Homo sapiens: one gene and its partner. The protein of the gene in region 2 interacts with the protein of the main gene of each other region in a pairwise test. Each region holds a gene or a part of one and is shown on either strand. Other genes may lie near its edges. The genes, in order: DBH and ALDH1A1.

Region 1 (16,161 bases), about 61 Mb from region 2:
TCTGCCTGGAGACAGTGGAGATGAGCCCCGACAGTGGAGTTGGTTCCTCCTCTGCAGCCAGGAACCAGGGCTGTCACTTGCCAGCAGGTCACAGGTTCTGTTAGCCATGGGCATTCCCGGGCCTGGCGGGCGGGACACTGAGCTTCTTAAGAAGATGCCTGAGGCTCCCAAGGCCTCCTCAAGACTGGGAACAATGCCTCAGACCAATGCTGCCCACATTCATGCAGGCAGGAGAGTTGCGGAGCCTCAGAAAGGGGAGAGTTGGGAACAGGGTGGGACATGAACAGGAAAGGAGAGAGAAACCAGGGTGCCACATCTAAGATGGTGATTGATAGCAGGTGCCCACCCTGCACTGGCACAACCCTGAGAACAAGCACTGCTTTATTACTTTATAAATACATGTAATTTTGGATTTTTTTTTTTTTTTTTTTGAGATAGGGTCTCGCTATGTTGCCTAGGCTGGTCCTGAACTCCTGGCCTCAAGCGGTCCTCCTGCCTTGCCCTCCCAAAGTGCTGGAATTACAGGCATGAGCCACCACACCCAGCCTGAAGCACCACTTTAAACCCTGCAGCCTAGGCATTGTTCCCCTCACCTTAGTCCCAGCCCTGCTTGGAGAAGGTAAACTGAGGCCCAGGGAGGCATTGGACCTGCTGCATTCTCCGAGGATGCTTCCTGGGATCTGGATCAGTGACCTCTGCCCTCCCCGTCTCCGGCCGCTCCCCTTGCACTGGGCCCTAAGGGGCAGGGACACGGTGGCCCGAGGCCAGGTCACATGGAAGACCACCAGGGAGACCCACTGAGAGACAGCGAGGAGCCTTCCCCAACAAGCAGGCTGCCCTTCGTACTCAAGAAGGGCCCTTCTTAGATTCCATATTTGTCTATTTGGCATCTATTAATTGATTGAAGGCTCAAACAGATGGTCAGAGTTGTTTACACCTGTCCTGCCCTCCAACATTCACACGTGTGTGAGAATCATATTCCTAACATTCCGACCCACACCAAGCCCATATCCCTAGCTACCTCCTCCACCTGACTCTCACACCCCAGGCCAATATTGCCCCAACCCTAAAACACCCTAGGGCCAGGAACCAGGCAACTAGAGACCACCCCAGCCACCCAGAGCCCACCAGAATTGTCCAAACGAAGCTGCTTCCCTGCCCTGCCTGGCCTTTCCCATGGAAACCCCAAGAAAGCCTCGGGCCCTTGGCCTTAAGGACTTTGGGTTGTGTTTCTTTTTAATCTTACATTCAGGGTAAAACATCTTTTCTTCATTTCCTTGAGAAAAAAGAAATCTGCAAAAGATACTGCAAAACTTTCCCTAGAGAAAAAAGCCACACAATGCAACCCCGCTGGGGACACCGCTGGTTTGCCGAGAGACTCATTTTAAACAGAGGCAGAAAGTTCGCCTGTGATATTTCAGCTGGAAATCAAGAAGATATTAGTTGAACATATTGCTTAGGGAGGAATAATAAGGCTGACATTTGCTTTCGTAGGAATTTGTTGTGCAAATTAACCTTGCCAGTGCACGGAAAGGCAAAGTCACCTGGCTTCCTCTGGCTTCCCTAGCAGCCGGGAAATGCAGGCAGGGGGGACGCTGCCCCAGAGAGGAGCAAATGCTCCTGCACTCAGGGTGCCTCATGGCAGAGGCTTGCGAAGAACCCCAAACTGTCAGCGATGGGGTTCAGCTGCTCCTCCAGACGGCTGACGGCTCAGAATCAGGGCTGTCCCAGGTCTTTCTTGGCTGGAACCTGAGCCACAGAGTGTCTTTGTGCACAGGAATCTGTGCAGCCCTATGGGTCAGAGCAGGGCCCTTCCCAGGCAGCTCCACTCACCCTACCTGGGTGGCCCTAAGCCTCACTAGCGACACAGGCAAGTGCCTCCTGGCCGAGTCTTGGGAATTGGAGGGGGCAAGCTCAGCTCCAGAAACAGCAGCCACCATCTGCCCTCATGAATTCACAACACCCAAAAAGGCAGAGAGGGACTCTCCGCCCCACCAGCCCATGGTGAGACCAAGATGCAGAGCTGGAGCCGGCCGCTCCGCACAGACACAGCTCCCCCGCTCCAGCTCGGCACTCCCAGATAAAGCAGGCACCTCCTGACTTCAGAAATAAAACTTTTTTGTCACTCCTTTGTGTGTTTCTGTGGAGAGAGTTGGGTTTCATCCACAAAGAAGCCCTGGTGGCCAGTCCCATGTGGAAAGGAAGGCTGGAGCAGGACCCATTGTAGGCGGTGGGCTCGCCCACTTCGGGGACCCCCTGCAGCTTGTGGAAGGGCCTAAAGTCCCCTCCAGTTTGAAGGGAAACTTTTCCCCTTTCTCCACCCTGTGAAACAAGAGTGGAGGTAAATTTGGACGGAAAGGAGTCAAGAGCCCATCCTAACAGTTTTGGCTGAGCCCTGTGGGGCTTGTTCAACACCTATGGGTAGGGGCAGGGTGTCTGCACCTGCTCAGTTGGTCCACGGGTACAAGCACAGTAGGTCAGGCTGGATCCCATGGGTGTGCAGGCCTCATGCTGTGCCCAGCCACGCGCCACCACCTGGCCCACATCAGTGGGCATGTGTGCTCTGGGGACGTGGTACTAGGCATTGTTTACAGGGCCGAGGGTCGTGGGGTCTGTGCTCATGCGCGTGTGGGGTGTGGAGCGGCACGAGTGTGTGTGGTGTGTGCGTCCTCTGTGTATAGTTCCATTCCTTGGGATTACTGGGTCCCATGATTTGGGGCGGGCAGTCAAGGACCATGGAAAGCATGTCTTTCCTATTTTGTCCTCAAACTGAGATCCCCATGATGCCCAAGCTCGGGGTGCAGACTTGGCTCAGAGCAGAGTCAACTCAAACACTGACAGGTGACAGAAGAACTTTCTGGGTTAAGGAGGGTGAGTGCAGAAAGACGGCCAGATGGGGTGCCGGGTCAGGAAGGGTTTGGAGAGCTGGCAGGGAGGAGAGACTCACCGCAAAATAGGCAGTGTCCCCATCGGTCCAGAGCACCACGAGATCTGCGTTCTCAAGCTCGCCACGGTCGGACATCCCAAACAGGACGCCAGCCTTGAGCCTCCGCACCAGGAGCTGGAAATGGATGGCCTCCTGGGTGTAGCTGACATTCCATGAGAGCTCCAGGGACCCCTCCGGGTCCAGGGGGATGTGATAGGGGAGGGGGCTCTCACGGGGAGCCGAGCCCTGCAGTGCGGCCACCAGGATGACCAGGAAGATGGCCACTGCTGTGCTGTACATGAAGGCTGCCTCCCGCATGCTGGGGCCGGGCAGGCTGGCCCAGCGACTGAGGGCGGGCATGGCTGGGGTGAGCTCTCTGGTCCCACCTGGCCATTTATGCCCTGGTCCTGAATGGGGTGGGTCCAGGCAGCACGGGTAATCACATTTGTCTAGCGGGGAATCCAATTTTCCCTCCCACAAGCTTGCGCCCCAGGCCAAGCACTCAGCCTGCTGCCCTCCTCTAATTGGCACTAATGACACATGGACGTCATCAGTGGGAGTTGAAGTAGACAGGCGGATGCTGTCCCTTCTGAGATGGCTCTGAAGAGCTGTCCCAAAAGCAGATGCACCCTGCAGCCAAGAGGCCTTTCAGACACCCTCTGGCCAGGCACCAGCTGACTGCCTCACAGGCTGTCTGGCCCAGTCCCCAGTGGGATGGGGTCTGCGTCGCCTCTACCCACGGATGAGCAGACTGAGGTCCGAGGAGCTGCTCCAGGCTGACCAGTGAAGGATAGGCCCGTAGCCACTGCAGGCCTGGCCTAGCGAGCAGAGCCGTTTGTACAATACTAGCAGGTGGGCCCATTTCAAACCAAAAATAAGACAATCTCCAAATAGTCCCTGTGTTTAGACACTCTCTCCACGGCCTGCTCTTCCCACTTTTGTCTCCTCTCAATTTTTCCACAGCCTCCAGCTGGTACCACTGCTGCTCCAGAAGGCGCGAGAGCATCATAGGGAGTGGGGGACATGGGCGTGGGGTGCATTGCTGGGGACAGACGGAGCTGGAGCTGCACAGGGGATAGGCAGGCTGCAGGGTGCACTGCTGGGGGTGACAGCCTTTAAGGAAAAGAGGGTGAGTGACAGGCCTGCTCCCCTGTCTCTGAAGCTCCCAAACCCACAGCTTCCTCTTGCCCAGAGCAGATCTGGCCTGAATTTGAAGCCTCTCAGGGCAGCTGGCCGCAGCCCTGCTTCTCCCACACCTGCCACAGGACCTTTGCCATCATCCACCCGTGGGCCCGAGGGTCAGTCTCACCACGGCACCTCTCCCTCCTGTCCTCTCCCACAAGTAGACTGAGGGCAGCTGCCTTCAGGACATTCTGCTTGATCCCTCCAGCTCCACCCCCCAGGCTGGGTTGACAGATCTCTCCAGCTGGACTAGAAGCTGTCCCTCCTCCCCAGCCTCCTCCCTCCCTTCCTTCCTTTTCCCTCCTGTTTCTCGTCTCTCTGGAGAAACCCAGAATCTAGCCTTAGGGGCACATTCATGTCATAGGCTGACAGCAACATTTAGGTCCTTAAATACCCATGACAGCAGGTCTGGAGGCTGCTTCAGCTCTGAGCTCTACGCTGTAGAAAGGAATGACTGTGTCTTTGCACGAACGTGAAATTTGGAGAAAGTGCCAGCCTTCCCCTGGCCCTCGCAGGCAGTGCTCTCTGCCCCACAGTGGCCAGGCCATCCTGCAAAGCCAAGCTCAGGCCATGAGCCCCTCCCCACTGATTGCACCCAGAGGGGCACCGTTCGCCCCCACCCACAGCCCAGGCAGGTGAGGTCCAAGTGCATAATCACCTGTGCAATAGAGTGTGGCATTGGTGTGAAATTGTCTCCCAGGCCAGGGGAAAGACACTCTTGGGAGTTCTCTGGTGAGCCTTGGGAAGGGTCTCAGCCTCCGAAGGCCTGGCTTTCCCATCAGGACATGCCACCTCCGTCGCCTGAGAGCACCTCACCTTCATGCCTCAGATTAGTTCCAAAACCTCCTCACCTGTGCCTTGTAAGCAGGTGTCTGCTGCATCCCGGACATTCACTCTCGGGACTGGGGAGCGGCCACAGCGAGCCGGTGATACGAAGAGCCTCCGGGGTGGGCAGGCACTGGTGTTCCCAGCACGGGATAACAAAAGCCAGCAGAGGCAGAGGTGAGGGTCACGGGCTCCACAGCACACCCAGCTCAGGGGTGAGCCCTCCCAGCAGCCTGGTGGCCACCCAGGTGGCTCCAGCTAGACAACAGGCTAAACGAGCACCAGCTGGGGCCCGCGTTGTGGGAAGGGGGGCACCTCTCTCCCCTCTGGGGTATTGAGGCCCCAGGCACCCCTCCTGCTCCTCCGGGGTCAGAGCTCTGGGGTCATATCCTGCTCCGCCCTCCTGAATGCGCAGCTGGCGTCCTCAGAGAAGCGCTTTCCAACCCAGCGCCTCCTCCCCATCTACAGACACAGGAAGTTGGATGACAAGGACAATTGATCCCTCCAGCTTCCTTCAACCCAGCGGTTCTGTGGAGCGAGAGGCAGTGAAGAGCCCCTGATGCTACCAGCCCTTGGACGGCTCAACACACCTCCAGGCCTCGCTCCTCTCCCGGATACGCCAAAGACCAACAGCTGCTGGGAGCTCTAAGGAGGGACGGCAGGTGCGGTCTCGTGCTCAGCAGTGTTATGCACACATGTTTATTTTTAACAGGAATCAAAGACATTTTCTTTATCCAACTCAAAACTGGCTTTCCTCTAGCATTTGACAGAAATGATTCAGCTGATTCCAAAATACTGATAACTAAGTCCTAGGGAGGGACAGGAGACACAAGTCAGGCCGCACCAGGGCTTCCCCTGCCCTGCCTCCATCCTGGCCAGCCTTGGGTGGCTGGGTGTGCGATCATCCCTGTCTCAGACACAGGAGAGTCAGCCTCGGAGAGGCGAGACAATGCGCCTGAGCTCACAGGGTGGGCCAGTGCCTGGGGCAAGCACCCCAAAGAGGGTGCCCTGAGCTGGAGGGGGCTGCACACCTTGTCAGCCAAGGTCAGAAAAATTCCACTGGAGTCAAGAGGAAGGGACGCTCAAATGAAAAATGCAACCGCAGAGAAAATCTGCGGAGACTGGGGCCGGGCGGGAGGGAGCGAATCCAATCGGATGGCCCCGTGGCTGCGCCCTTCCTTGCATTAATGGATTTTAAAAGGGAGCAATCCGACCCCAGGGTAAGGAAGCAACAGTCAGCTCTCCTCCTGCCCTCACCCTCCTCAGAGGTGACACCTGCTTGCCAGGTGCTCTCTTGGCCACATGCCTCCCTGTGGTGCCCCGCGGGGGGCTTTCCTCCCTGCTCCCACCCCTGCTGCCTCTGCTCCAGTGTCTGGGTGCACGTTGCCCTCCAGAGGTGGCGGTGGGGGTGGGGATGGGAATGGGGGTGGGAGTGGGGTTGGGGGTGGGGTAGGCCGGGGAGGTGCAGGGTGTCACGGCCACGGTGTCAGGAAATAAGCCCCATTCCTGCTGCTCAGCGCCTGGCTTCCCTCCAAGGCGCATCGACGGCTGACCTTGTTTAGAACCAATTTCAGCTTTTTAATAAGCCCTTTGCTTTCCTGAATCTCTCTGATGCCATCAGCCTTTGCAGGCTGTAATTCCCCATCGCCTCTGCCACATGAGGCTGGCTTCTGCTGACGTCCTAACCTCAGGCAGTGACAACCCCAAGTGGAGCGACGGTGGTGCAGACTGGAGCTGGGTGAGTGAACAGGCCAGGCCACTCCCCAGTGACAACGGGGCCTGGCCACAGGACAGCACTGTCCCTCGCCTGTGGCTCAGGCTCTTAGGGACCTCCTCTTGGCAGGAAAAATTCAACTATCAGTCTGATGGCAGTGCCTAGACCTGACTTGTGATGGGATGGATTGGGAGCTGCTGGGAGACGGTGACTCTGTCCATCACAGAGCCCACTCCAGGGTGGCACAGTCCCCTTGGGGAACTTGGGGCAGCTGGCCTATGTCCCTCCTCGTCCTGAGCATAGGGGCTGCGGTATGAAAGTTAAGAGGCACATTCTGGGCTGGGCACAGTGACTCATACCTCTATAATCCCAGGACTTTAGGAGGCAAAGACGGGAGGATTGCTTGAACCCAGGAGTTCGAGACCAGCCTGGGGAACATAGCATGACCCAGTCTCTACCAAAATAAAAATAAAAACAAATTAGCCAGGCATAGTGGCACAAGACTGTAGTCCCAGCTACTCGGGAGGCTGAGGCGGGAGGATCGCTTGAGCCCAGGAGTTTGAGGCTGCAATGAGCCCTGACTACACCACTGCACTCCAGCCTGAATGACAGCGAACAACCCTGTCTCAAAACAAACAAACAAAAAGCATATCCTGCCTGAGGAGGCAGCGGTGGCACCATGCCTCTGCCTCTGCTCATAAGCGTAGGTGGCCGTGAGAGTTTGAATGCTTGGGATATCCCATGGCCTGAGGTGTCCAGGGCCTGGGGCACTGAGTAGGGTGGCTACAGTGGGATCAGCATGAGGACTGGGCCCAGGGCAGGTCACAGAGGTGCCCAGAGCACCACTGAAAGCTTTCCTCAGCTACTGGATTAGAGGCACCCTCTGGCCCTGAAGCTCTGTGCCAAAAGCAAGGGGCCACTGATCCCAGAAGGGGTCGGTATCGTGAGCCCCAGTGACACTCCCCTGGAAGCTCCCAGGGAAGCAGAACCCAGGAGTCTGTGGCTGGCTCCAGGGCTGGGGCTGCCAGGCCTGCCAGGCCACTCCTGTGTGACCCCAAGCAGCCCCACTGTGAGCAAGTCCTCCACTGTCACTGGCAGGCGGCTGGCCTGGGCAGGACACAGCCTCCCCCGCCTCCATCTCTCCTCCATACACAGGGGTCAGCGAGATGGGGAGGTGGACTCTCACACCTGCGTGGCCTGCACCCCCAGCTCTGGGCTCATGCTCACATACTCAGTTTTACACACACACACACACACACACACCCCTCCAATAATTTGGCCTCAATCTTGGGGCTGAGGCCTGCTGGGCCCTGAGGAATCTTACAGGGAAACCCTTTCTGGGTCCTGCTTCTCCTTTTCTCCATAAGGATGCGTGACTGCTCCTCTCTCTTGAGCAGCTCATGGGGGGAGGTGCATGTGCCTGATTTTTGCATTTTCAGCTTTTCTGAAGGGACCACACTGCCAGGATGGTGGTGGGTCCTGAGGCAGTAGCTCCAGACCACACCCAAGCCACAGCGTAACTGTGGGCACCAGATGGAAAGAGAGGCCCTGAAACCTGCCGGCCATGTGACCCACCCGGACAGTCCCCACAGCCCTGAGCCTTCTTTCCTCATCTGTGAAATGGCCATCTTGCTCAGGACCGGCACTGGCGCTGACTTCTGGCTACAGAGGCTGGGCCCTGCGTGGCCTGCACCAGCACTCAGGGCTGCTGGTCTTGCCCCCCGCTGGCTCCTGCCAGCCATGACCCTCTTCCTGAGGCTGTAGTTCATCTGTCAGTAAGCTTGGTCACCTCAGAGATCCACCAGGTTGACCTACCATTGACCCAGAATGGGGCCGATGCAGTGAGGGCTAGCGAGACAGCCCCGGGCTGCCCTCACCCGCATCCATCTCGGGGGCTGCTGCACCCACTGACATCACAGGGTCCAACAGGCAGGGCTCTGGCCCAGGAGGGTCTCGGAGAACATGAGAATCCGCCTCCCTCCCTGGAATCTCTCTGAGCTTCTGGCGTGTGGTGTGACAGACAGAGGGATGTCCCCCAATGGCCACGTCCAGATCCCTGCAAGTCGGGTAGGCTACCTGGGGAAGGGACATTCAGTGTGATTAGATTAAGGACCCGGAGGTGGGAGGTGGTCTTGGATTGGCTGGGTGGACCCCATGTCATCACAAAGGTCCTACGAGAGAGAGAAGGAGATGCATTGATGGGGTCCAAGGAGAGGAGGCTGCTTCCAAGACGGAGCAGGGGCCATGAGCCAAGGGATGTGGAGGCCTCTGGTAGCTGGAAAAGGTGGGAACAGATTCCCCTCCCAGAGCCCCCAAAAGGAGCCAGCTCTGCAGACACCTTGATTTTAGAGCTTCTGACCTCCAGAACTGTAAAAAAAAAAAATCGTGTTGTTTTAAGCCTCAGAGTTTTTGGTCATTTGTTACAGTGGCCACAGGAAATACAAGCGCCCTCCTCTCCTAGTGTCTGCTGGCACCGTCACACTCTGGTGGGACCCCCAAGTGCAGTCGGAGACTGTGTTCCCTTCTTTTTGTCCTGTTATGGTTTTGGTTCTCCCAAAAGCAGACGCTGAGGCAAGGGTCTGGATGTGAGCAGGCTGTGTGGAAGGAGAGCTCAGAGTGTGCGGAGACGGGTGGGCAGGGGAGTGGGAACACTCACGAACCGTACTTTCATAATCAGTTTCCTCCATGGGCAGTAGGGACTCAGTTCCAAGGGGACCCTGGAGAGACTGTGGAATGCACCCCAAAACTGTCACATCAAGGGTGAAGAAGCCGGGGCCCTCACCTTCCCACACCCATCCCTCACTGGCAGAAGGACGCTCCTGGGGTATCAGAGCCCAGCATGGGGGCTGCCGGCTGGTGGGCCAAGTCCACTCACACAGCCAAGCCCACCCCAGGGTGGGAGGGGGGGGCAGAGATGCAGGAAGTTGTGGGGTACCAGTTGCCTTGGGCAGGCCCAGGAGATGGGGGTTGTGGTGAGAATTGAGGGTCAATGCCCTTTGCACCATGCCATGTGCAGTGGGAGCCCTGTGTGGGACAGCTGTCACCAGGTTGTGGTCTGGGCTCCCGAGTCCTGAGATGCCCTCTGAGTCCACAGGCTCGTAGGAGCCGTGTCTGCAGCCCACCTGCCTCTTCCCTAGGCGAGCATGCAGGCACTGGGCGTTCTCGTGAGTGAGGGCACCCAACCCTTCCAAGTCACATGGAGGCCCTGACTGTCACCATTTCACAACTTAGGATGCCGAGGCCTAGAGACAAGTGGCACTGGCCAGGGCTCCGTGGTCATGGGTGGTGGCTGCAGAGTGGTAGGCCTGGAAGAGCGTGGCGTCTGGCGTCCATGGAGTCTGGAGAGGAAGGCTGGCCTGGGCCTCCCGGGCGGTTCCATGCAGGCTCTGCTGACTCTCAAGATGGGGGCTATGGCAGCCTCAGAGTGGGCGGGCAGGGTTCGAGTGAGCTGCCTGGCAAAGGCTACAATGCCAGCGACCAGCCCTCAGACCCCCGCTCAGGGCTTATGGGCCACTTCACCACCAACCCCTGGAGCTCGCGGCTGCCACACCCCACTGGACACAGACCTATGTGGCTGAGACCGGCGCCACCCAGCCCAGGACCCCCGGACCTGCCCTGACTCCCTGGGCCTTGGCTGAGAACAGGGGACTTGGGCCCCAAGGTCTGAGTGGTCAGTCAGCCCTCATCCCACCCCCCATGCCCATTTCAGGGCCAGGTGTTCTTGGAAACCTGATCCCAGAGATGCTGAAGGGCAGAGCCTCGCAGGCTCAGCAGGGCTTCCACTGGCCTCAGCGCCCAGGGCCGAGGGGGCATCTGTGGTCCTACCCGGGGGCAAGCAATGTGGAGGCTGAGGCTCAGGAGTGCTGTCCCTTGACATTTAGGTGAGTTTCACTGGGAGGGACATGGTCCTTATCCCAGAGAAGTAATCAAGACAAAGGCAGAAAGAGGCAGGTGCATGTTCCTCAACCTCTGTACCTTGTTTCCTCAGCTTATGGGGACAGTGACAGAATTACACTCGCATTTCCTCAGGCTGGGGGCTCCCCGAGTCAGTGCAGGCAGAGGCTGGACCATCTGTGCTTAGTGAGGGCTCCCTCCACGGTGGCGAGCTCTATCATTATAAACATCCAGACAAGCCTGAAAAACACGGCGCAGAATCACTCCCTCAAATACGACTACCATTAACAGCTCAATATGTCGTCTGTCAGAACAGCTTTTCATTCTCTGAAATTTTTAAAATTGTTTATTATTGATTTGTCACATCATGTAAAATGTCCCGCCTTAACCACTGTAAGCGTGCAGTTCAATGGCTTTCAGTGCATATTCCTATTACCGTGCAACCATCACCACCATCTGTCTTCAGAACGCTTCATCTTGCAAAACTGAAGTTCTGTGCCCATGAAACAACAGCTCCCTATTCCCCCTCCCCCAGCCCTGGGCACCTACCATTCTACTTTCTGTCTCCATGATTTTGATGACTCTAAGACCACATAGACATAGAGCCATACAGGATTTATCCTTTGTGTCTGGTCTATTTCACTGAGCATACTATCCTCAAGGTGAATCCAGGTTGTAACATGTGTCAGAGCTTCCTTGCCTTTTAAGGCTGGAGAAGAGTCTATTGTATGAATGATCACACTAGATGTATCCATCATCAGTAGATGGACAGTTGGGTTGCTTCATCTTTTAGCTGTTGTGAATCATGCTGCTGGGTGTGCAAATACCTCTTTGAATCCTTGTTGTGAATTCCTTTGAGTGTGTACCCAGAAATGGCATTGATGCATCCTGTGATAATTCTACTTTTAATTTTTGAGGAGCCATCACTGTTTGTTAAATGGCCTGCTGTACACACTGTCCTGCCACTGGTGTTTTCCACGTGCATGTTGGATATATGTTGAGTATACACGCTCAGTGCTGCCTCCGCCTTTGACAGCTCTCAAGTATCCCACTGCAGGCATGGTCTCTGATTGATTTAGCCAACTCCCTGTTGATAAATATGTGGGTCGTTTGTTTCTTAAACTATGAGTGACAGCGGTGCAACTCTTGCCTTTGTCTGCCGGCCCTCATACACTTGTACCCACGGCTCTATAGCATCAGTCCTCAGAGCCCGGGCTGTGGAGCCAAGGACTTTGGGCTCCCTAATTGAAATCAACCCACAGGTTCAAAAGGCTTTGGTCAAGGGGGATGCTCAGACGCTGGCTGTTATGCCACCAGCCAAAGGCACAACTGCCTCCATGGAACAAATAGTTTCTAACAGGTAAGTAGGTTTAAACCCTGTTGATGGGCCAAATTAGCTATTGGACCAGGCAGCCTCCCTCCAGCTACAATCAAATGCATCACATACATAAACACAAATTCAATCAAGCCTAAGCCTTGCCATCTGCTTTTCAAAGATGAGACTTTGGAAACAAGCAGGTCTCTGTGCCTGGGGGCTTCTGACATTCACAAAGTAAGAAGCAGGCAACGATCTGCACACCCTGATCCAATTTCCCCTCTGCTGATCAAGTTATGGAGAGACTTGGCCCCATAAGGCCCTGGGGAAAGGGCGAATTAAAATGACCAGGACAGAGATGGTCTGTGTCACGTAGGAGGTGAGGAGGTAGCATGAGCTACAGTGCTGATGAGGATATCTTTCTGGGTGGCACTGGTCAATACCTGGAGCAACAGGATGTCTTGGAAGTGCTGGGATTGCCAAAGGCCTGTTTGGTCCCAGGAGAACAGGTCTGGGTTTGAAGTGTCTCAGCATGGTGGGTTGGCCAAGGCCACTGAAATGGTTTGGATCTGTGTTCCTGCCCAAATCTCATGTTGAATTGTAATTCTCACTGTTGGAGGAGGGACTGGTGGAAGGTAATTGAATCACGGGGGCAGGTCTTTCCTACGCTGTTCTCATGATGATGAATAGGTCTCACGAGATCTGACGGTTTTATAAAAGGGAGTTCCCCTGCACATGCTCTCTTGCCTGCCGCCATGTAAGATGTGACTTTGCTTCTCCTTTGCCTTCCGCCATGATTGTGAGGCCTCCCAGCCACGTGGAACTGTGAATCCATCAAACCTCTTTTTTTTTAAATAAACTACCCAGTCTCAGGTATGTCTTTATTAGCAGCGTGAGAACAGACTAACACACTGTCCTCGTGATAGTGAGTGAGTTCTCATAACATCTGGTTGTTTAAAAGCATGTAGCACTTCCCTCCTCTCTCTCTCCTGCCACCCTGTGAAGATATGCTTGCCTCCCCTTTACCTTCCACCAAGATTGTAATCTTCCTGAGGCCTTCTCAACCATGCTTTCTTTACAGCCTATGGAACTGTGAGTCAATTAAACCTCTTTTCTTTATACATTACCCAGTATCAGGTAGTTCTTTATAGCGGTGTTAGAATGAACTAATACAAAAAATTGGTACCAAAGAAGTGGGGCATTGCCATAAAGATATCTAAAAATGTGGAAGTTACTTTGGAACTGGGTAATGGGCAAGAGGTTGGAACAGCTTGGAGGGCTCAGAAGAAGGCAGGAAAATGAGGGAAGGTTTGGAACTTCCTAGAGAATTGTTGAATGGTTTTGACCAAAATACTGATAGTGATGTGGACAGAGATGGCCGGGCTGATGAGGTCTCAGATGGAGATGAGGAACTTATTGGGAACTAGAGTAAAGGTCACTCTCACTATGCTTTAGCAAAGAGACTGGTGGCATTGTGCCCCTGCTCTAGAGATCTGTTGAACTTTAAACTTGAGAGAGATGATTTAGTGTATCTAGTGGAAGAAATCTCTAAGCAGCAAAGCATCCAAGACATAACCTGGCTGCTTCTAACAGCATATACTCATATGTGTTCACAAAGAGATGGTCTGAAATTGGAACTTATATTTAAAAGGGAAGCACAGCATAAAAGTTTGGGAAATTTGCAGCCTAACCATGTGGTAGAAAAGAAAAACCCATTTTCTGGGGAAGAATTCAAAGTTGCAGAAATTTGCATAGGTAAAGAGGAGGCAAATGTTAATAGCCAAGACTATGGGGAAGATGCCTCCAGGGCATTACAGAAACCTTTGAGGCAGCCCCTCCCATCACAGGCCTGGAAGCCTAGGAGGGAAACATAATTTAGTGGGCCAGGCCCAGGGCCCTGCTGCTCTGTGCAGCCTCTGGACGTGGTGCCCTGCATCCTCGCTGCTCCAGTTCCAGCTGTGGCTAAAAGGGACTGAGGTACAACTTGGCCATTGCTTCAGAGGGTGCAAGCCCCAAGCCTTGGTGGCTTCCATGTGGTGTTGAGACTATGGGTGCAAAGAAGGCAGGAGTTGAGGCTTAGGAACCTTTGCCTAGATTTCAGAGGATGTATGGAAATATCTGGATGTCCAGGAAGAAGTCTGCTGCAAAAGCAGAGCCCTCATGGAGACCCTCTCCTAGGGCAGTGCAGAGGGGAATTGTGGGTTTGGAGCCCCCACACAGACTCCCCACAGGGGCACTGCCTACTGGAGCTGTGAGAAGGGGGCCATCATCCTCCAGACCCCAGAATGGTAGATCCACTGACAGCCTGCACCATGCACCTGGAAAAGCTGCAGGCACTCAATGCCATCCTGTGAAAGCAGCTGTGGGGGCTTTGCCCTGCAGAATCACAGGGATGGAGGTCCATTCCAGGTTCTTATAAATGGTCACCTCTTGTGGAATTCCTAGTGCCAATCTCTTTGTCTAGTCTGGTTGATGTTGTCACCCCTGTGGCAGAAATCATCTGTTGCCATTAACAGTACATCAATATGGTATAGGAGGGAGTCTATTGACTGATTGATTGATTGAAATATTCCAAAGCCTTGGGAGTGCACCCCTTGCATCAGTGTTGTTTGGATGTGAGACATGGAGTCAAAGGAGATTATTTTGGAGCTTTAAGATTTAATGACTGCCACGCTGGGTTTTGGACTTGTATGGGGCCTATAGCCCCTTTGTTTTGGTCAATTTCTCCCTTTTGGAATGGGAGCATTTGCCCAATGCCTGTACCCCCATTGTATCATGGAAGTAGCTAGCTTGTTTTTTATTTTACAGGCTCATAGGCAGAGGGACTTGACGTGTCTCAGATGAGACTTTGGACTTGAAATTTAAGTTAATGCTGGAATGAGTTAAGACTTTGGGGGACTGTTAGGAAGGCATGATTGGTTTTGAAATGTGAGAAAGACATGAGACTTTGGAGGGGCCAGGGGTGGAATTATATGGTTTGGCTCTGTGCCCCCACCCAAATCTCATGTTGAATTATAATCCTCAGTGTTAGGGGAGGGACCTGGTGGGAGGTGATTGGATCATGGGGGTGGATTTCCCCCTTGCTGTTCTCATGATAGTGAGTGAGTTCTCATGAGATCTGGTTGTTTAAAAGTGTGTAGCACTAACCTCCTTCACTCTCTCTCTCCTGTTGCCACATGAAGATGTTCCTGCTTCCCCTTCTTCACCTTCCACCATGATTGTAAGTTTCCTGAGGCCTCCTCAGCCATTGCTCCTGTACAACCTGTGGAACTGTGAGTCAATTAAACCTCTATTCTTTATAAACTACCCAGTTCCAGGTAATTCTTTATATCAGTGGGAGAACAGACTAATACAGTCACTGTGTGGTCATTGCTAAGAGTTCTTGGTCCATTCCAGGTTCTTGTAAATGGTCACCTCTTGTGGAATTCCTAGGGCCAATCTCTTTGTCTAGTCTGGTTGATGTTGTCACCCCTTTGGCAGAAATCATCTGTTGCCATTAACAGTACGTCAATATGGAATAGGAGGGAGTCTATTGACTGATTGATGGATTAAAACAAAGTCTTTCTCCATTGTCTGGGCTGGAGTACAATGGTGTGATCAAAGCTCACTGCAGCCTCGACCTCCTGGGCTCAAGCAATCCTCCTGCCTGAGCCTCCCAAGTAGCTGGGATGACAGGTGTGAGCCACTGTGGCTGGCTAATTTTCCAAAAATTTTTTTTTTATAGAGATAGGGTCTCACTATGTTGCTCAGGCTGACTCAAACTCCAGGCTTCAAGTAATCCTCCCACCTCAGCCTCCCAAAGCACTGGGATGACAGGTGTGAGCCACCACGCCCAGCCTAACCAAAATATCAACCAGCCTTTCCCACATTTGTACAGACCGGAGCTACAAGGCCAGCATCTTGAGGGGCAAAGGGGAGCTCCAGGTGAACTGGAGGCTCCAGTCAGAGAGAGGATGTCATATCCCCAGCTCAGAGAAAGGCCTGGGAGTTTTCCACTATGTTTGTGGCTTAAGCATTGTATTAGTCTGTTCTCATACTGCTATAAAGACACACCTGAGACTGGGTAATTTATAAAGGAAAGAGATTTAATTGATTCACAGTTCCACGTGGCTGGAGAGGGCTCAGGAAACTTACAATCATGGTGGATGGCGAGACTAAAGCAAAGGCATGTCTTACATGTCGGCAGGTGAGAGAGAGTGAACAAGTGAAGGGGGAAGAGCCCTTTATAAAACCATAAGATCTTGGGAGAACTCGCTCACTATTACAAGAACAGTATGGGGTAACTGCCCCCATGATCCAGTCACC
Region 2 (16,105 bases):
GTGCACCCCCCCACACCACCATCCCAAGCCAGATAATTGCTATTTTCAGATATCTCTGTTTGATGTCTGTATTTCTGTGAGATTTATTTTATGCTGATTTGCAACATATCATCCTATAGATTATCCATGCCATTTCAGAGTCATTACCTTTACTTTGGGTTGGTCTTCAAATGAGTTATTTTTCATATTCTCTAAGAGTGTTTCCCTCATTCTGGCAAGTATGTAGTGACAAATTCAATAGGTTAAAGTCCCTGTTACAAAGTTATATAAAGAGTTGTACTGAGAGCCCTTATGAAATGGGGACAATACCCTCTCTTAGGACATGTGTTCTTTACTTTAGAATTGTTAATTCCATTTTCTTACAGTCAGGCAGGTGCCAGAAAACAAAACAACTTGCCAAGACAGCAGTCCTCAGAGATGAGCATTCTAAATATTAGTAAATGATTATCTCCCACTATTAAAATCAATGATTGGTTCTGTCACTGGTTTGTAGCCATCATCATGTTTCTGCTTAGCTCTGGCACTTTCTGAAAGGAAAGTTTCTGATGTGGCTGAGTGCTAGTTTCTGGAAGAAACTGGAAGCTCTATTGTGAAGTAACTGGAAGGTGGTTGCTGCATTGAAGTTATAAGGCTCACTCACCTAAAACTTTTAGACCCTTGCTGCTGGTCAACAGACATTTTGGTAGCATCAGCAAAAGCTGAAAGACTGTTAAGAACACAGAATCTCAGACTTCAGCCTAGATCTATTCTTTCAACCACAGTAAGGAATGAATGATAAAAATGCAGTAATAGGTGTGAAAACAGTTGTTAGAGCTAATTGGGAAAGGGGGATAATACCCTCTTCTCTTAGGATATGTGTTATTTACTTCAGATTTTTTTCTTGATTAGGTTTTCTTGAGTGAGATTCTAGTACTACTGGTTTTGATATTTAAGGAAAAAAGGATATCATGTGGGAAAGCATCAGATCCAAGATAAAAAGATTTAGAATCCAGTTTATTCTACTTTTGCATTTTAAGAGCTATGTGACCTTAAGTCAGTCATGATCTCTGAGCTCGGGCTCCTCAGCTTTGAAATGGGACTCTGCTAACATCTTTTCTAGCTCCTCTCAGTGGTTAATGATGCACCTCAAATGAGAGAAATATATGAAATCAGTTTTGAGCTGTGATAAGCAATATAAATATAACTTACATTGAGAACAGAATGATCATATAATTCTAGGAGTCATCTTGGGAAAGAGAATCAAGGAGAGAAAGGACTAAGTAGTTAATAAGTGCCAGCCACATTCCACAAATTACCTCACTTAATTCTCACAGCCACTTTCCAAGGTAGTCATTCTCATTCCCAATTCACAGACAGAGGAACTGAAGCTCCAGGGGATGAGAAGCTTGGCCAAGGTCATATAATTAAATACATAGAATAGCTGGAAATTGAAGCCAGGTTTAGCTTGTTCAGTCACTGCACCTTGCAGCCAGTCAGCTATTTTTTTCACCTGCTTCCAAGCCCAAAGCAAACAAAATATTGCTTCAGTTGGAAGGAAGTTAAAAACATTTCCCAAGTGAAAGCAGCATCACAGCACAATCAGCTTTGCGTTGAACATAAGTCCTTTCCTGTTTTAAGCACCTCTCAGTGATCTTCCTCAAAATCCGCCAGCCGATCTGGCCCCAGCCTGTACTTCAGTTTCATCTCATCCATTCTCTCCCTTATTCACTTTACTCCAGCCAGATTAGCCTTTGGATAGTTCTTTGAGCATAACATGCTCTTGTCCTCGGGGTCTTTGCATGTGGTAAGACCTCTGGATCTTTGTTCTTCCCTACTCTTGGCCACCTTATTCTCTACATCCCTCAGGCTTACCTTTAAAGCACCTTCCCAAAAATCCTCATCAAAAGCTCTTCTACTCATATCCTCTCAGCTTTCAGTTATTTTGCTTTAAACATTTATCCTAATTTCTGATTAAAGCATTCTCTTATTTTCTGCCCCACACTATTCCACACACCTTCCAGGAACAGAGGCTGCATGAGACGTGAATCATATTAGCCCTCTTATATCATGAGAACTAGCATAGGGCACTCATTCAAGGCCTTGTTAAATAAGAGGAAGGGAAATATGGGAGAAACGAAAAGCAAAAGGGAGAAACAAGCAAAGGGGACAAAGGAGGTATTTGGAAGTTCATGTAGCTGAATTTGTTTGTTGTAAGAATTTAAAGAGATAATCATGGGGGAAAAGAAGCACTTCAAATCGTGCCTGGGACGTATTATTCAATGATTCATAACTCTTCTCCATTGAAAATATCTCTTTAACCCAGAAGGGTTAAACAAAACCAGAAATCTAGGAAAGCAATCTCCTACTCTAACCAAAATCGATTCCATAGGAGTTGAAGAAATGTAGTTCACACAGACATTTCACATCCATGTCAAAGTCCTCTGCCTCATAGCCTCTCCTAGCCCAAACGTCACATTTTCAGTCAAAGCAGAAAACCTATTTCCTTTCAATTTCCCTATTGTTCTCTTTTTCTAAGTTGGCTGCAAACTTTCTCTTATTGGCCTGGGAACAGCTGAGCAGCAGCTGGAAAGACCATGGTAATCAGCAATGGGCAAATGAAAGTCAGGATGAAGAAGGATACAAGAGGATTCTGGCAAGTCAGTGTCCCAGAGTAGTGGAATTGACCTTAGACAAGTCTCTTGCTAGTGTGTTAGCTCAAACTGCCAGCATTGGCAGTGTAGCTTTGTCACTTACTTGCTGTGTAACTTTAGTAAGTTACATAGCCGCTCTGTTCCTCAGTTCCCTGAACTGTGAAACAGGAATAGTAACCTCCTCATAGGGTTATTATGAGGAGTAAATAAAATCATTGTCAAGAACTTAAACAGTCATGGCAGAGTAAGCACAATAAATTTTACCTATAATTATTTATTGTGTGTGTGTGTGTGCGTGTGTGTGTGTGTGTGTGTATGTATGAGTAAAATGTCATTAGCTGATGAAGGTCTTTTGTAGCATGAACAAACCATGGTTTAATAAGTGAAGCTTACTAATTAAGTTAAACATTTTGGCGTTTGAATTCTGTCTGAGAATGCTTGTCTTCTTGAATTTCCTATTTCCCTTTTATAAAAAAAAAAAAAGAAAAAAGAAAAGGTAAAACAACAGTATTGTGAAGAGAGAATGGCAAACAAAGTTACCGAATCCTGTAGGAGAAAATTTTTGATCCCTGAAATCTTGGAAGACCCTTGGAACTTCACTCTGATGCAATCTTTGTCAGATGGGACATGACTGTACAAAAAAGAGTGACAGAAAAGCTAGGAGAAGACGTGAGGCATACTTGTAGGAAACAGGTCTAGGAAAGGTTGGGTAAAAGGGAATATTCTGGAAAAACTGGAAAGGATTCAGAAAAATAGGACTAGGATCACTAACGTTAAATCATTTCCCATGTCCAGGCATTATTTCAAGGGCTTTGTACGCATTAAGTTCGTTTAATACTTTCATCGACCTTAGAAAATACGTGCCTTTATCATCCCCATTTTAAACATAAGAAAACCGAGGCAGAGAGAAGTAATGTAGCTTGCCCAATGATCACATAACTTTCAAAGAATCTCTTCATTTAAAGGCTCAATAAAATGGAAAATGTGGGGTTCATTTAGAGTTGGAAAGAGGAGTAATGAGGATAAGGATGGGATATGAGTTCATATTAGTGAATTTATAGCGATGTTTTTGAGGTTTTAAATTCCAAAAGCTTTTGTATAATTTTAGAAAGCATTTCTTAAACTCTGATCTCTCTTTAATCTACCCCAACAAAGAAATAATCAGACTGTACTAGAAAATAAGTCATAAAAACATATGCATCAATAAATTCTTTTGTTTGGGTGAAAAGCAGTCCCAAGCTTGAGAGTATGTAGCTTTTCTATCGTAGTTGTAATATTTTTTTTTTTACTCAACCCTGTCTGTTCTCTCCAACTTGTCCTAACAACCAATATACTTCTAGCTATAATAATAATAAAAAAGGACATTAGAATAGTAACAGAAAAATAACACAAGACTTTAGGGGCTGGTAATAGAAGATAATTCCTCAGACACTATAAACTCCTTGCTTACTTGGTTTGTAACCAGGGAACTTTTTATAGTTAATAACCATCATTTTTTTTTTTAACTCCTCTTGCAAGAGCAAATTCAATCCAATTCTTCACTGGGACATAGTAAACAAAAAATGCGAAGGCATTTGAAAAAGTTCACCCATTTAGATTTAATTACATACATAACTGGCGTCCTCCCAAGTGTGAAAACGCTGTAACCAATAAATTAAACAATAAAATGCTATCTGAGCAGAACAGATTTATATAGAAGATGCACGAGAAATCAAAATTCACTGACTTGTTTGGAGTATTTTTACCCAGAAAAGTTCTTAAACACAGAGCAAAACGCCTGCTCTTTGAGTCTTGCCTTCTTTTGGACACTTAGGTCAGTCACTTTCCCTAGAGGGGAGTTGTTGCACAGTGACTTCGAAGTGAATAGGTTTCAATCTCAAAATCATCTCTCTGTGTTAAGGGTTCATTAGGTCTGTGCTTGTATGTTAGATTTTTAGGACCATCTCATTTGTCTAGTACCGCTTCTTACATGCTTAGTTAATGACTACTAAGTGAAGCTTAATTTAGCAGGAAGGTTATTTACATTAGAGCTTCCTTGAAATACACACACAAGGAAGACTTTGCAAACTTCTGCAAAGCCAAAGGAGTGGGGAGACAGGGGCATCCAGACTACCAAAATATCTTCCTAGGTAGTATTATTAAAAAAAAAATCCCATTAATAATAGTAATACAATAATCTGAGCATTGTCGACAATTTTGAGCTTCATGAAATGTATTTTTAAATGTACCCACTTTCAATTGAAATTTCTTGTGAATGACAAACTTGGAATAAGAAAATGAGGGAGACTGGACTCTTGCAACCTTTTGGACATACCTTTGCCAAATGTAAATTGTTTGACGGTATGGATTTACTGCATTTTTCATGCTACCATTTGTAGTAAAACTAAATGGAAAAAATCTTTCCTCTTTAACAAAACCTCGTGATAACAATACCTTAAAATACACTTCATAGCTGCTGGTCAACCATGTTAAAGGCACAATCTGATCTCTGCTGCTACTTTCCTGAGGAAAAGAGCCAATCAGCTGAGCAACTTCCTCATTTGTTGTGCTTTATGAAAATGAAAATGCAACAGACCTTGGGATTTCAAAGCCATCCATGGTTACAAGTGAGGAAATAAATATATAACAGTGGGGACTTTTACTTTATCATTAAATTATAATGCCCTTTGTTTTTCTGTTGGCTAATTCAGACAGCAAAATGGCTCTCTCTTGATTTGCAAGAGTTAATTTCTTACCATACTTTCTGCATCACACCATAAAGATAACTTCAAGTAATTTTGGTTAGATTGTGTTTTATTCATTTGTTTGTTTTGGAGTTCTAGGATCTGACAGGAAAGCAGTGTGAAACAGGCAAAGTTCAGAGTTACTCTCAGAACGACTCAAGCAGGATCCATTTCCTAGTTCCCCCCAGCTGCGGATTTTAAAGTCTGGATCTAGCTCCTGCTCTTGTTTCTCTAAATATTTATCAGTTAACAATTACACATCTGCTCCAATGGCAACAAACTTGGCTGAAGAAATAATGCTTTTCTTCCTCCCACCAAAATATGCAAAATAATGCAAGTCCATCTGAAGATTTTCGAATCCAATTATCAGACTTAAGTCCCCCTATTTTAACACTCATTTTATTAAACATATTGGAAAGTTATGTTATTTCAGTATGCTCTCTTTCTCCTTGTTTGCTTTCTATTGTTCCTACTCGTTTGGTTCTTTCCAGTAAGCTTCTCTAGTGAGTATTTTGCTCTCTTATCATACATGCCGGCTATAGTGAAGTTAATAGAAGTGCTTAGTAAAGTCCTCTGAATCCTGGTATAAGAATCCTTTCACACAGAAGAGAATTCCTTTCGCTTGGAAATATTTTAAGAAATAAATTTATGAAAGATTGTCTGATATGATTTAGATCATATTTGATCAGGACACTAAACTGAGACCTGCATTTTGCATGCCTTTTATTTTTATATTTGCAAAGGGCTCTTTACACAAGTTTACTTAAATTGACCTTTAATGCTTTACATAAATGCAGTTTTTGCAAACCCGAGTCAAAGCAGAAAATAGAAGTTTTACTCACCTTAGTATATTGAATCTTCAAATCGGTGAGTAGGACAGGTAAGTCTGGCGTGCCTGAGGATGACATTTCTGATTCGGCTCCTGGAACACAGGTGACTGGCTCAGCAATTTGGTTCTGATAGAGCACTTGGCTTTATTTGTTCCTTTTTTATCTGCACGGGCTAAAGTTTATTTGCATACTCGGATACGATTGGATGAACAAACTCAGAGCAAAAAAAGAAAACGACACTACTTATTTGTAACACCTAGGGCAGGAAGCCTTTGACTTTAAACTTAAATCCTTAAGAAACCAGTGCTCCAGCATCGAATTTGTACCTGGAGACAGTGCACTATTTGCAGATGAATTAATTTACAAAGCCGAAACCTGTGATAAGTGTATGCAGCAGCTGCTCTGGCCACTAAGGCCAGTTATTATTTTTTTGACTTCTCATGCTTTTTAATGCTACTATGTAACTTTCTGTTCTCTGACAGACTTGGAATCAGAGAATTTGAGGATTGAAAAGAGTCTAAAAGGGCACTTGTTCTCAGTAGAAGCTGGCCAGGTGTCTTCAGGACAAGGCTTTCAGGAAATCAGTCCATCTCCCAGAAAATCAAGGTGCTGTTTGGGGAAGAAAGGCCCTTTATCTACACCCTACCCTAAGTTAGTTTTAAAATATCGTATCAGTCTTGTGTATTTTCAGTGCTGGGTAAGTAGACCTACTGTGATCTCAGAAGCCCTAAATTATCTTTATTTTCTATATGTGAACAGAAAAGCCAGCAGGACTTTTAGGGAATTCGGAACACACTGTCACACACAATCACCACAATTAGAAATATGGCAATATCATCTATTAATACTCATTTAAAATGAAAGTAATCCTGGTTTTGGAAGTTGTCTGTATTTATCAACATAGGCAGTGTACAAAGACTAAATTTAAGCAGGGCTTCCAAACAATTCAAGTTCTTAAATTAATATTTAGCTGAAGGACAATTTTTTAAACAGTGTTACTCCCATTTTAAGTACAATACTTTATTGTATTGTAGCTCTAGCAAACGTTACAATAGGAACAAGATAAAATACTCTGGATGCTCTGATTGTGGAGAATCAACCAATTTTTTTTTTTCTAGTGAAACTTGCCAATTCCCCTGAATATGGGACTTACATAGGGAAACTAAAAATTTCTGAATTGTTTGCCCAAATCAGGTGCAGCACTTGTTTCCCTTTCTACCCTCATTTCATATCCCCATTTTAGAGACATACAGAGGGTGAGTAGCTTACTTATGGTCACAGATCTATTAGTGCAGGACCAGAATTTCATTTCAGGCCAGTCTGACTCCCAAACCTGGACTCTTATTTCTGTTTACTATTTCTACCCTATTCTCCACAAGAGAACTCCTACATGGGTTCAAGCATCAACTGCTTTGGTTTTCTCAGTGAATAGTCACCCTTACAGGCATTTAAACATAACTTTTTATTCATCTAAGACAAGAATTTGCAAAACTTTTTCTGTAAATATTTTCAGCCTCTGGGCTGGATGGTTTCTGATATAATTTACTTGACTCTATTTAAAAGAAACTGTAGATGATAGGTAAATTAATGGGTGTAGTTGTTTTCCTATAGAACTTTATTTAAAAAGACAGAAGGCAGGCCAGATTTGGTGCACGGGCCAACTCCCTAGATTCTAAGGCAATATCATTCCCAATGCCTTTGACTCCCCCGTGTCTTATGTTTGATGACCAGATAGAAACTTCTGTGTTCTTTCAACATTTCTCTGTTTCTTTCTTTTTGGAAAGTCTAATTGTTTTCTCTCTCAAAAATGTGTTTTGAGTTAAATGCACAATTACACAACAGCTGTTACATAACTTGAGAGTGGCGCTCTGGCCATGCCCAAACAGCTGTGTTTTGCTGCTTTCTTCTCCCAGAGTCACAGTTGTTTGTGGATTCAAATACTGGTTTATTTGATGTCCAGGCGATGAAAGCTCAAGGCTTCATAACATACTTGGCTTGTCATCTCACTTCTTATATGATCATTCTCAATTGTATTTTATTGGATAATTATGTAAGAACAGTCCCTTTATACCAGGCATTCCTGAATGTAGGCAAAAGGAGTTGCTTTGGAGACAGGTTACCACACCTGCCCATTTAATTTCAGCAAATATTTACTAAGTATCATTTATGCATCCATAATTCTTTAGCCCTAACCTCACTTAAGCAGATCTTTTCTGCCTAGAAACCACAGGGCCTGAGACCTATATTTTTGAGGTAAACATCATCCTGCCCTGAGAGCTTATTTTGTAGAATAGCATATTTCTGGGAATTGCTGCATATGAGGAAAAGATTTCATCAGACTACTTCTATTCCTTACAGAGGAAATAATGGCTTTTGTGAGAACCTAGGGACCAAGGTTGCACATTTTAGAACTGGACCCAGGATTGTACGTTTTTATGGTATGCCAGGACTATGCAGCAGAGGAGGAGCTGTCCCTTTAACTTGAGAGTAATCGACAAATGATGTTTCATCTTCTTTTTCCTCCTTATGAACAAACTAAATCACACACACACACACACACAGGCACACACACATATGGAGAGAGAAGCAAGAAACATAAGAGGATAGTTTATTCATCTCTTGAATTTGACTTCTCCAGCCATTTGTGAAAGCTTTCATTATACCAAGAAACATATAGATTATGACTTCAACCATTCTTGAAACTACTCTTTCATTTTACAACAAACATCTCCAGAACTCCGTCCAATCCTCAGTTCCTGAAAAGATAAAAGGAACCTAATCTGCCACCCAGGACTTAAAATTTTTAAAAAAATGTTGAAAAAAGTCATATGATGAATTAAAAATAGCTTCTGCAATGGACTGAATTTTTTTTGTCCAGTCACAATGGATATGTTGAAATCCTAACCCCCCATGTGATGGTATTAGGAGATGGAGCCTTTGGGAGGTGTATTAGTCCATTCCCATGCTACTAATAAAGACATACTTGAGACTGGGTAATTTATAAAGGAAAGAGGTTTAATTGACTCACAGTTCAGCATGGCTGGGGAGGCCTTAGGAAACTTACAATCACAGTGGAAGGGGAAGCAAACACGTCCTTCTTCACATGGTGGCAGCAAGGAGAAGTGCTCAGCAAAAGGGGGAAAACCCCCTTATAAAACCATCAGATCTCATGAGAATTCACTTATTATCATGAGAACAGGATGACGGTAACCCCCCTCCATGATTAAAGTACATCCCACCGGATCCCTCCCATGACATGTGGGGATTATGGGAACTACAATTCAAGGTGAGATTTGGGTGGGAACACAGAGCCAAATCATATTAGGAGGTAATGAGGTTATGAGGGTAGGACCCTCATGAATGGATCAGTGCTTTTATAAAAGGGACTCCAGAGAGATCTCTCGCTGTTTCTGCCATGTGTGGATGCAATGAGACATTGGCAATCTGTAACCCAAAAGAGGGCTCTCACCAGAACCCAACTATGTTGGCACCCTAATTTCAGACTTCAAGCTTCCAGAACTGTGAGAAATTAATTTTTGTTATAGCAGCCTGAATGAACTAAGACAGTTTCTTTTCATATTTCCTGATTTCAAGATGCTGGAACCATTTATTGAAGATGAACCTCTCCTACTCCAGTTACATGACCACTCCCCTAACTATTCTCTGTTGCCTTAGCATGTCTGCCTGTTGGTAAACCTAGCAAGAAATCTATCCCTATGCTTTTGATTACTACATTTTTATCAGATACCACATTGCTCTTATGCTTATTTGAGTTTTAATAATTTGGGAAAAGTGGATCTTGTATGTAGTGAGAGAGTCTGTACTTAGTTGACAAGTTGATGTTAAAAATGGAAGTGGAAGGCAGAATTCAAGTATATGAACATATGTATTTGTTGACTAATTTCTGTTCACATGCCATTCTTCTTCAATTGGAAAAATTTCCTCACCTCTGATTTCTCCTGCTCTTTACATATCTTTTCATTGTTCTTCTCTTTGGCTTGTGTTACTGAGATAGGATAGATGCCCCTCTAATCTGGTCTAACCAGGACACTAACTGATTAGTAAGGTCACTAAAAGAAACAGTACATTAAAGCCTCTGTAAGATAATTATTTGAGTTTAAATAGGTTTTTGCTAAACCTTATGGGTTGAGGCCATTTCTTGGAACTGGATTTGCTGCTTGGAATTTGAAATAATCTTGCATAAATAGTACTCATAGTGTTTTGTCTAGTTTCCAGTTTGCTTCCTTAATGTGTAGAAAGAAAGACATGAAAGACATCAATGAGTCAATCAAAATGTAGACTACTTTGAGATTTCCACAATTTTTTCTTTTTTTTTTTTTTATAATTCTCATGCAGATTATCCAACAATGTGTTTAGAAATTTGATGATATTGTTTGTAATATATTCAGTTTAATTTTCATATAAACAACTTTTCTTACCACCCCTGCCCTGGCAATGAATCAATATTTTGAAGCTATTGAAGGGGACCAGAAGACAAATAATTAAAGAATAAAGCTCTATAAACTGGAAAACATAAGACAATGGATTCTTTCCTAGAATCTCTGGAGAGAGCCTGACCTGTCCACTCCTTTGATATTGGCCAGTGAAACTGATTTCAGATCTCTGGCTTCTAAAAGTGTTGTTTTAAACCGCCAAGTTTATAACTGTTACAGCAGCCATTGGAAACTAATGCACTAATCAATAAAAGTTCAAGTTCATAGGTGTCAAAATGTATATGTTGTCATTGATCATGCACCCGTCATTCTTTGTGTCATTCAGGTTTATTGTTACTATCTAAATATTCTAATTTAAATAAAGGTAAGCTTTCTATCTGTACCTTACAATGAAAAACTCATCAGGTGTTTTATATATTTTATATACATATATATTTATGTATATATATGTATGTGTATATATAGAGAGAGTAAAGATGAGAAAGAGGTTTATTTGGCTCATGTTTCTGTAGGCTGTACAAGCATGGCACCAGCATCTGCTCAGCTTCTGGTGAAGCCTCCGGAAGCTTTTACTCATGGCAGAAGGCAAAGGGGGAGCATATATGTCACATGGAGAGAGAGGGAGCAAGAGAGAGGGGGAAATGTGTCAGGCTCTTCTTATAACCAGCTCTCCTGTAAATTTATTACCGTGGGGAGAGCACCAAGTCATTCATGAGAGATCCACCTGCATGACACAAACACCTCCCACTAGACCCCACCTTCAGCACTGGAGATTACATTTCAACATAAGATTTGTGGGGGAAAAACATCCAAAATATATTATTCTGCCCCAGTTCCCCCAAATCTCATGTTCTTCTCACATGGCAAAATACATCATTCCTTTTCAATAGTCCTCCAGAATCCTAGCTTGTTCCAGCATCAACTCAAAAGTTCGAAGTCTCAAGCCTCATCTGAGACTCAAGGCAAGTTTCTTTTACCTGTGAGTCTGTAAAATAATAAACAAGTTGTTTACTTCCAATATACAATGGTAGTACAGGCACTTGGTAAACATTCCCATTCCAAAAGGGAGAAATTGGCCAAAAGAAAGGGGCAATGGGACCTACACAAGTTCAAAATCCATCAGGGTAGTTGTTAAACCTTAAAGCTCCAGCGTAATCCTTGACTCCATGCTCAGCATTCTGGTGTGAGAAATGTGGTCCTGAGGCCTCTGGTAGCCCTGTCCCCATGGCTTTGCTGGGCACAACCCACATGGCTGTTTGCAAGGGCTGGAGTGAATGCCTGCAGCATTTCCAGGCTCAGAGTACAGGCTGCTGGCGGCGCTCCCATTCTGGGCCTAGAGGGCAGTGGCCCCATTCCTACAGCTCCACTAGGCAATGCCCTGGTGAGGACTCTGTTTGGGGCTCTAACCCCATTTCCACTTAGCACTTCTCTAGTAGAAGTCCTATGTGGGAGCTCTGCCCCTGCATCAGGTTCCTGCCTGGGCACCAGTCTGAATACCTGCAGACTTAACATTGCATGGAAGCTGCCAAGCCTTATGGTTTCATCCTCTGAAGCAGTGGCCAGAGCAGTGTCTAAAGCCTTTTGAGCCAAGGCTAGAGCCAGAGAGGCCTGGTATGGGGAGCAATGTCCCAAGGTAGTGTAGGGCAGCAGGGCTCTGAATCTGACCCCGAGAACCACTCTTCCTTCCTAAGCCTCTGGGTCTGTGGTGGGAGGGCTTTGAAATGGCTTTGAGGCCTTTCTCTCCTTGTCTTGAATATTAGCACTTGGCTCCCTTTTAGTTATGCAAATCTCTCTAGCAAGTGGTTTTTCCTCCAGCTGGTGGATTCTTCTCCCGAAAATGCTCTTTCCTTCTCTACCACATGTTCAGGCTGAAAATTTTCTGAATTTTTACACTCTGCTTTGCTTTTAATTATAAGTTACAACTTTAAGTTTTTCCTTTGCTCCTAAATCTGATCATAGGTTGTTAGAAGCAGCCATGCCACATCTTCAGTGCTTTGCTGCTTAGAAATTTTTTCCTGCCAGATTCTAAGTCATTACACTTAAGTTTAAACTTCCATAAATCCCTACAGCATGGACACAATGCAGCCAGGTTCTTTGCTAGGGCATAACAAAGGTAACCTTTGCTCCAGTTTCCAATAAATTCCTTATTTCCATCTGAGACCTCATCAGCCTGGTCTTCACTGTCCATATTTCTATCAGCGTTTTGGTCACAATCACTTAACCAGTTTCCAAGAGGTTCCAAACTTTCTCTCATCTTTCTGTCCTCTTCCGAGTACCCCCTCCCCAACAAACTCTTCGAATGTCTTCCTGTTACCCAGTTCCAAAGCTGCTCACATTTTCAAGTATCTTTATAGAAATGCCTCACTCCTTGGTACTAATTTTTGATGTTAATGCATTTTATGTTGCTTTAAAGAAATACCTGAGACTAGATAAGTTATAATTTTCTTTTAAAGAGGTTTATTTGGCTGACAATTCTGCAGGCTGAACAAGCATGGCACCAGCGTCTGCTCTGCTTCTGTTGAAGCCTCAGAAAGCTTTTACTCATCGCAGAAGCAAAGGAGCAAGTATGTTATATGGTGAGAGAGGAAGAAAGAGTTACATTTTAAAAACCTTCCAGTTTTGGTTGCATTATAAATCTTTATTATATTGCAAACGTATTATGCAATAAATAACGATTTCTGTGAAAGCTTTTGCTTTTTAAAGTAATTATTATATTTGGAGAATATAAAACTTTTGGTTTGCATTTGCTTGCTTGAATTTGTTTTCACATTTTAAAGTTATACATACATATCCAGATCTATGACCACAATCCAAATTTATCTTCCAGGCCCTGGCTTTGCATTTCAACTGCTGGTCAGATAACTAAGCTAAATGCCACACCTCATCATGTTGCTGGGTTTGCAAACCTGAGAGCCAGCATATTTGTTTTATGTGGACTGTGCAATACTGTACAAATTAGAAACATTTTAAACCCCAGATTTTAACTTCTTAAACTGTCAGAAGACCTGAAGAATAGTTTTAGCCTCTCTGCTACACATTAAAATCACCTGGGGAATTCAAAACAAACAAACAAAAAATAAAAGATTCTGACTCTGTAGGAGTAGTTTGAGCCCAAGTGCGTTTAAAGTGCCTTAGGTAATTCTAATGTGTGGTCAGCTGTCAGAATCATTGGAGCAGCTCTGGGTTCCATTTCCTCATAATGCAACCATGAAGCTGAGTAGTAAAGGTTCTCAAAGTTGGAGCAACAACTACATCCACTGGCAATCTTTTAGAAATGCAGTGTCTGACCCCATCTTAGACCTACTGAATCAGAAACTCTCGGGTGGGGCTCAGCAATTTGTGGTGTAACAAGCCCTCCAGGTGATTCTGATTCATGCTCAACTTTGAGAATAACTGCACTCCAACATAGACCTCGATCTATCTCTATTATTTATTCTAGTCGCCTTTCACTTAGGTTACTACCTAGTCCTTTATTTTATATTTTAAGACCACTAAAGGAACACATTATCATTTTTGCAACATAATCTTTTTCTTGAATTTCCTGTCTCTGATTAGGACAAAACAACACCAACCGAACTTCAGGCATTGGCAGTTTCTTGACTTTTTTTTTTTCTGTTAAAATATTAATTTTATTTAATGAAACAAATTAACACTTTCAAATTTCCAGTGTCCTTATATTTTAGATTTAGGTTTTAAAGAGCATACAGCTGGACTGCTTTTTATCCAACCTGTCTTTATTTAACGTTTATGTTTAATATGTATTTAATGTGTATATATATTTACTCCTTTATTTATATCTATTGTAATTACTGATGTACTTGTGCTTTCTCTTTGTCTTTAGATCAGTTAGGATTAAATTTGGCTGCCTCTGATGCAAAACCCAAAATAAATATTCAAGATGGAAATGGATTCTTCTCTCACATAAACAGATTGTAAGCAGGTTGTCCATGGCAGCCATGGTGTCAGAATGGAAAGACAGAGGCTGCTTCCAGCTCACTGCTCTAACATCCCTAAGGTATGGCTCTTTGCCTCCTGATAAGAGAAGACTGCTAGAACTCCAACCATTACATTTAAATTCCAGGACTCAGAGGAAAGTGACAAAGCTCTAGGGTCCATCTACATTTTGAGGAGGTTTCCCTGAAGCTTGGAGCTCATTGACCTTAGCTTAGTCTCATGTCCATACCTAGCTATAAGGGTAAATAAAGATTGTAAGCTTTCTCTAGGTAGCCTGGTTCATAGTTAAAAATCAGTGCTTGTAAGGGTTAATATCCAGAATCTACAAAGAACTTAAATTTACCTGAACAACCCCATCAAAAAGTGGGAGAAGAATATGAACAGACACTTCTCCAAAGAAGACATTTATGTGGCCAAGAAACATATGAAAGAAAGCTCATCATCACTGGTCATTAGAGAAATGCAAATCAAAACCACAATCAGATATCATCTCATGCCAATTAGAATGCAGATCATTAAAAAGTCAGGAAACAACAGATGCTGGAGAGGATGTGGAGAAACAGGAATGCTTTTACACTGTTGGTGGGAGCGTAAATTAGTTCAACCATTGTGGAAGACAGTGTGGCAATTCCTCGAGGATCTAGAACTAGAAATACCATTTGGCCCAGCCATCCCATTGCTGGGTATATACCCAAAGGATTATAAATCATGCTGCTATAAAGACACATTCACACGTATGTTTATTGCAGCACTATTCACAATAGCAAAGACTTAGAACCAATCCAAATGCCAATCAGTGATAGACTGGATAAAGAAAACGTGGCATGTATACACCATGGAATACTATGCAGCCATAAAAAAGGATGAGTTTGTGTCCTTTGCAGGGACAGGGATGAAGCTGGAAACCATCATTCTCAGCACTCTAACACAGGAACAGAAAACCAAACACTGCATGTTCTCACTCATAAGTGGGAGTTGAACAATGAGAACACATGGACACAGGGAGGGGAACATCACACTCGGGGGCCTGTTGGGGGGTGGGGGGGGTTAGGGGAGAGATAGCATTAGGAGAAATACCTAATGTAGATAATGGGTTGATGGGTGCGGCAAACCACCATGACACGTGTATACCTATGTAACAAACCTGCATGTTCTACACATGCATCCCAGAACTTAAAGTTTACACATAAAAAAGAAAGGAGTGCTTGTTGTATTAAAAATGGGGAGAATGACTATTGCAGAGGTAACTAGCAGTTTCTGCTCCACACTCTTCTTCTTGCCTATCTTCTGTTTTACTGATTATAATTTATTTATTCCTGGCCGGGTATGGTGGCTCACGCCTGTAATCCCAGCACTTTGGGAGGCCAAGGTGGGCAGATCACTTGAGGTCAGGGGTTTGAGACCAGACTGGCCAACATGGTGAAACTCCATCTCTATTAAAAATACAAAAATTAGCCAGACGTGGGGGCATGTGCCTGTAGTCCCAACTACTCAGGAGGCTGAGGCAGGAGAAT

Evidence for each region.
Region 1: the proteins of ALDH1A1 (region 2) and DBH interact in binary tests that used the Homo sapiens proteins (3 or more experiments, as listed by UniProt).

What each region holds. Positions count from the first base shown.
Region 1 is NC_000009.12:133,623,497-133,639,657, reverse strand, and holds the start of DBH (dopamine beta-hydroxylase precursor), read right to left. Parts: upstream 3,296-16,161; 5' UTR 3,287-3,295; coding exon 2,948-3,286; intron 1-2,947. UniProt on the Homo sapiens protein: Catalyzes the hydroxylation of dopamine to noradrenaline (also known as norepinephrine), and is thus vital for regulation of these neurotransmitters.
Region 2 is NC_000009.12:72,946,740-72,962,844, forward strand, and holds the start of ALDH1A1 (aldehyde dehydrogenase 1A1), read right to left. Parts: upstream 6,315-16,105; 5' UTR 6,262-6,314; coding exon 6,196-6,261; intron 1-6,195. UniProt on the Homo sapiens protein: Cytosolic dehydrogenase that catalyzes the irreversible oxidation of a wide range of aldehydes to their corresponding carboxylic acid.